Homo sapiens: one gene and its partner. The protein of the gene in region 1 purifies or fractionates together with the protein of each later gene. This does not show direct contact. Each region holds a gene or a part of one and is shown on either strand. Other genes may lie near its edges.

Region 1 (3,500 bases):
ATCATTAAGGTTTTAGCTTAACTTCATCTTAACTGAAAGTACTGAAATTTTCTACTTAGTCTTTGTTAACCAAAACAAGTCAGAGTGTTCTATGTCTTTATGAAGAATACAAAGCATCAATATGGAACTATGGAAATGGATTTTAAGGCAAGAAACAATTGAACAGCTAAATCAGTGATAAATTACTAGGTATTATTATTCAAACAGTGTAGGCCCCCACTGAATAACTTTACTAAATTTTTGCTAAACATCAATACCTACACTGTTTTCCTTAACAATCAAGGAAAGCTGATCAATTTTCTGTAAAAGCTCTTTTTCTATCCGTTCTTGTTCCTGTTGCAACCAACTCCGTGCAGATAATATCTGGTTACTGAGTTCCTCAACTGTACCTTTAAATCTAAAAAAAAAAAATTGCAAGTTAGATGTAAAACAGTTTATTTTTTATTTTTTTTATTTTAAGTTCCAGGGTACATGTTGAGGATATACAGATTTGTTACACAGGTAAACATGTGCCATGGTGGTTTGCTGCATCTGTCAACCCATCACCTAGGTATTAAGCCCTGCATCTATTAGCTATTTTTCCTGATGCTCTCCCTTGCCCCCCCCATGCCCCCAAGCCCCAGTATGTGTTGGTCCCCTCCCTGTGTCCACATGTTCTCATTGTTCAGCTCCCACTTATAAGTAAGAACATGTGGTGTTTGGTTTTCTGTTCCTGTGTTACTTTGCTGAGGATAATGGCTTCCAGATCCATCCATGTCCCTGCAAAGGGCATGATCTCATTCCTTTTTATGGTTGCACAGTATTCCATGCTATATAAGTACCATATTTTCTTTATCTAGTCTATCATTGATGGACATTTCGGTTGATTCCATATCTTTGCTATTGTGAACACTGCTGCAGTGAACATACGTATGCATGTATCTTTGTAACTGAATGATGTATATTCCTTTGGGTATATGCCCAGTAATGGGATTGCTGGGTCAAATGGTATTTCTGGTTCTAACAATTTTTTTTAATGACATCATACAATATCAATTTCCAACTATCATATTTCTGGTATATATGCCAACATTAAACTAGGCTCAATCAGAATTACATATTTTCCTTTTCTTAGAATTGCACTTAGCACTAACATGGGAAGCTGGTAAGGCGGGAGAATACAACAGATAAACCATCTGATTGTGCTTCCTACCCACGAGGAGTACGCGGCACAGGCACTGAGGTGACACAGCGACACAGAGCTGGGCCAGCCACAGACCCCGGCAGTTCCGAGGGTCCACGATACTCCTGGCTCAGAGGACACAGTGTCTCTCATCTCCTCTTCTAGGGTCCCCTTCTTCCCCAGGCTCTTCCTCCTAGTCCCTTTTATCTCTTGGGACTAGAACCTGGCTCCCTTTCTCTCTAACGTTCCCCAAATTGCCCTTGTCCTCTATGGATATTTCCTAATGTAAATCAAAAGAAAAATTGAAAGAAAAAAATAAAACCCTCCCATCCTTCCATTCCTCTCCCTTCCCAAATTCCTTATAACTGTCCATACCTGCTACCTCCCTCTTAATTACTTCTTTCCAGTTTTTATTATAATATGTAATAAAATACAGAAGAATGTATGTGATGTAGACATGTGACTTAAATAGTGATAACATGAACACCCATTGTAGTAGAGCTACCACTTGTCCTGCAATATCTGTTCTCTTCTTCTTCCTTATTAAGAAGCCCTCAAATGTTAACTGGGTACATGGCTGCCTAGCCAGAGACCACATTTCCCAGGATCCCTTGCAGCGAGATATAGCCTCATGATGCATCAAAGTCATAAGCACGCCTTTCCAGTCCTATCTTTAAAAACAAAGCTTCTGCCCTGGACTCTCTCCCTGTCCCAGGTGACTGGGAAGGGACGAGGACTGGAGCCTTGGAAAAACCACACTGAGTTGCGACTGCTGCCTGTCTCCTCTGGACCACTGATCTCCGCACTGTTATGTGAGAGCCAGCATGGAAGCTAGCCTGTACCCTAAGTACACAACCGTGAACCCCTGCCAGGTAAGACATGGAACACTGCCAGGACCTTAGAAGACCCAAGTGTACTTTGCGATCACCCCACAACCCAAGAAGTAACCATTAACTGGAACTTATTGTTCTTCATCATTTTATTCTATTGGTTTGGATCTTAAAACAGCATATTTTTCAGCATTGCTTTTTTTTTTTTTTTTTTTTTTTTTTGAGATGGAGTTTCGCTCTGTCGCCCAGGCTGGAGTACAGTGGTGTGATTTTGGCTCACTGCAACCTCTGCCTCTCAGGTTCAAGTGATTCTCCGGCCTCAGCCTCTTGAATAGCTGGGACTACAGGCGCGCACCACCATGCCCAGCTAATTTTTGTATTTTTGTACAGACAGGGTTTCACCATGTTGGCCAGGCTAGTCTCCCAAACTCAAGTGATCTGCCTGCCTTGGCCTCCCACAGTGCTGGGATTACAGGCGTTAGCCCCCTCGCCTGGCCAGCATTGCATATTTTTAAATTTTATACAAATGGAACGTACTAAAGTGTGAGTTTTCTACTCATTTTTCACTCAACATATGTCTGTGAGATTCATTCATGCTGATTTGTATAGCTGTAGTGAATTCATTTTCATTGTTGAATAATATTCAATTTTATGAATATACCACAGCTTATCCAGTCTTCTGTTGATGGACATTTGTTTTGGTTTGTTTTTATCCATCTTTGCTATTAAAAATAATGCTGTTATGGGCCGGGTGCAGTGGCTTACGCCTGTAATCCCAGCACTTTGGGAGGCCGAGGTGGGCAGATCACGAGGTCAGGAGATTGAGACCATCCTGGCTAACATGGTGAAACCCCATCTCTACCAAAAATACAAAAATTAGCTGGGCATGGTGGCACGTGCCTGTAGTCCCAGCTACTCGGGAGGCTGAGGCAGGAGAATCGCTGAACCCGGGAGGTGGAGGTTGCAGTGAGCCGAGATCAAGCACACTGCGCTCCAGCCTGGCGACACAGCAAGACTCCATCTCAAAATAAATAAATAAAATAAATAATAATGCTGTTACAAAAATACTGATACATAGCTCCTGGTTCACATTTGGGAGAATTTCTCTAGGGTCTGAACACGTCCAACTTTTCCAGAAAACACCAGACTGTTTTCTAGAGTGGTTGTACTACTTCACATTTTACTCAGCGCTATAAAGAGGTCCTGTTCCCCACATCCTTGCTAACACTTTCACATATCTGATGTGAACCCGTGTCCTTTGGATTTCTTCTAATGTTTGGAAATTATACCAATTTTATTCTTTTAGAATGGAAATTTTAATACACACATTTAATTTATCAAAGTCTAAAGTTATTCAATGTTTCTAATTTGATCCTGAAAAACTCCTAAGAATAATTTCAGAAATCTTCCTCCTCATTTAGATGTTGTCATTGACCTATATTTTAGTTGTGTTTTGATCCTCTGCAAATCTGACTTTAATATTACTGTTTGTTTAGATTTGCCCAATG
Region 2 (2,917 bases), on another chromosome or scaffold:
CAGCTACTTAGGAGTCTGTGGCAGGAAGATCACTTGAGCCCAGGAAGTCGAGGCTGCAGTGAGCCATGATTATACCACTGCACTCTAGCAGGGTTGGGGCGGCGGGAAACTAAAACCCATTTGATCCAAAGTGAAAAAAAAAAAGGCGGTTAAATGAAAATGAAACTCTGCTGGCTTTGCAGGACTGGCCTGGCACCTGACCAGGAAAGGTTAAAAAAGGTCAAACAAGCCTCCCACTACATGGCCAGGAAGTGGTTTGTGGAGAAATGGTTTGGAGGATTTATCTGGCAATTTCTCATTCATTCAGCTGTGGCCAAACTGAAATCCTATGAGCTGTACCCCTGACACGTAGAGTATGGAAGCCCCAGAAGCTGAAATCCCCCGGAATATTCACGTTCTTCCCTGGGAGGTGGGTGAGGAGGCCACGCACAAAGACAAATAGACCAAGACATATTCTGAGAGACCAGTGCTCTAAGAAAATAACATGTTACGAGACCATGTTTTTCTATTTTTATAACATTTTATATAACTCATAAAACAGTGTTTGTATAAAAATTCACACAAAGTTGCTAGAGAGCATACAATTTCCAAAAATGTCCTGGGTTTTTGTTACATTCAGTTTCCTAAGGATGCACTCCAATCTATGGTAAAATGCAGACATGATGCGAGATTTCATTATCTTTGGTAAAACTATTCTCATTATTTTGTCTCCTCACAGTATTAAGTCTGATATCCACTTTGTGCAGGGTCTGCTATTACTAGGATGTCAGAAAAACATTAAGGCTGGATCTACGAGAGGCAAGTATTTCCCAACAGCAGTAATAGCCCCTTGGCCCTCACCCCCACTTCATGTATCTATACAGTCGATCTACACAGCCAGGCGGGGTGCAAGCTCACGACCTCCACTCGGGAGTCTCGAGATCCCCTCTTGACTGGGAAAGAAGCAAACATTTGTGGGGAACGTTGGAAACGGAGGCCATCTCTAAATGAACCCAGTGGTCATGCTGTGGTGTGGTCAGACCAGCAACTTTTACCAATTAAATAGCCAATCTATTCACCACTAAGTAGATCCCATTGGTTGGTTGGTTGATGATTGCTGCTGATGTGGTTCCCCACTCCCCACAAACATAAAAGGAAAGGAAGGTTTGGAGCCAACACCGAAAGGGGAGGGGCACGCTAGCGCAAATGACACCAGACACGACTTTATTCCCTGTCAAACATTTGTTGTCCTGTAGACACAGCCAAGGTGAACTGAAGGGGGATGCGAACACTCAGTACATTCGTGACTATCTTCATACATTCTTTAAAAACTTACAGAGAAATCAATGAAGACTACCACCTACTGTGACTTACTAGTTCATTCAACATCAAAACGTGTCTGTGCTAATCTTTTAGTCCTTGGGATACAAGGCCAAAAAAAAAAAAAAAAAAATCCAAAAAACAAACAACTAAAAACCAAAGAATTTAGATGTGGGGGAAGGAAAGCGACTGCCAACAGGTTTCATGGAACACATTAAATTTTGAAAAAATAAGTATTTTGTACTTCTATTGCTTCATGTAAAAAATTTAAAATAAAAAAATGCCCACTGGAGCCACCTGTATGGATGGAGAAGTGAGGACACCATACAGACAGGGCAAGGACCTGCAGGCGTTTCCTGACGACAGTCCAGAGATGGTGAGAGTTCCCACGTGTGTCCACTTCTCTTCACAGAAAGGGACTGTAAGATTCTGGGGGAAGATGCCCTACACATGTAAGGTATTAAGAAAATCACTGAAATACGGTTTCCAAAAATTGAACATGCTCTGGGTTACAAAGAGACATATTTAATTCCTAGAACCTGTTGATTTCTCTAACAGGGGTAGATGGGAGTTTCAAAAAAATTATTAATAAATGATTGTGCTTCTAAAGTTGCAGGGTCAACATTCCACCCTCTAGAAAGCAGGGCAATTCATGGCTTGGAGTCCTCGTTTACATCCTAGAAACCAGAACAAATTCCATGGGACCTCCCGCCTCCAGCCCCCAACAACCAGCGGTGGGAAGGGGGAGGTGGTGGGAGAGGGCCACAGCTGTCTTTGGGTAGGGTGCGTGTGTGTGCATGCTGTGTGCATGTGCTGGAGAGACTAAGGCATAGAGAAGGGCCCAAGCGAGGGGGGAAAGTGAGTCTCCTGGCTGCTCCAGTCCCTCCTTTCCAGGCACAAAGAAGTTGAACTTGTTATTCGTGTAGGCCCCCTTCATCTCACTTCAGCTTTTAGTAAGCAGTGCGTGTGTGCATGAGTAGCTGTGTAAGACAGAGAGTCATTCAGTCCCTGTGCCTTTCTAAATCTGTTTGCAGTTTCAACAGAAATAATCTGTAAATGACACTTAGGAGCAAATTTACTAGTTAGATCAGCAACTTAACATTGCTTTTAAAATCCTGTATTTTAAAAAATGCTCCTGGGTACAGGCAAAATTATGTCATACAGCCACTGGAACTGAAGTTCTTATCAGCTGAATGAAGAAAATCCAGATTGTTTCTGTTATCTCTGCATTTTAAAGTAGCAAAATATTAAGCCATCCCACAGGGGTTCTATGACTACCCTGTGTGATTCAATAAATTTTCCAGGACTCTGGTATGACACACTGTTTGCATTCGACTGTTTCCTTTCCCTCTTAAGCATTTGGCCCCCAGAGTTAGGTAGGTAAAAGTATCATTTTAAAGGACTTTACCTGTCAGGGGATTTCCCAGTTGGTGCTCCTGGAGAGCATGCAGCTGGCCTGCAGGAGCCTGACATTCCCAGTCGGGAGGGAACGAAGACATGTGCCCCCCAAGGCAGGGGGTGGCCAGGTATAGGACAGCAGGACCTTCTAGAGAGTCCAAGAGGAAAGTTCTGAGTGGACCCTGGGAAGGGACATGTGTACCCCATCTAAAATGGCCTG

Evidence for each region.
Region 2: the proteins of FAM81A (region 1) and BEND3 purify together in Homo sapiens (affinity purification with mass spectrometry; one large-scale study listed by BioGRID and IntAct). This does not show direct contact.

Annotation. Positions count from the first base shown.
Region 1 is NC_000015.10:59,511,186-59,514,685, reverse strand, and holds part of FAM81A (protein FAM81A), read right to left. Parts: intron 398-3,500; coding exon 262-397; intron 1-261.
Region 2 is NC_000006.12:107,064,682-107,067,598, forward strand, and holds the end of BEND3 (BEN domain-containing protein 3), read right to left. Parts: 3' UTR 501-2,917; downstream 1-500. UniProt on the Homo sapiens protein: Transcriptional repressor which associates with the NoRC (nucleolar remodeling complex) complex and plays a key role in repressing rDNA transcription.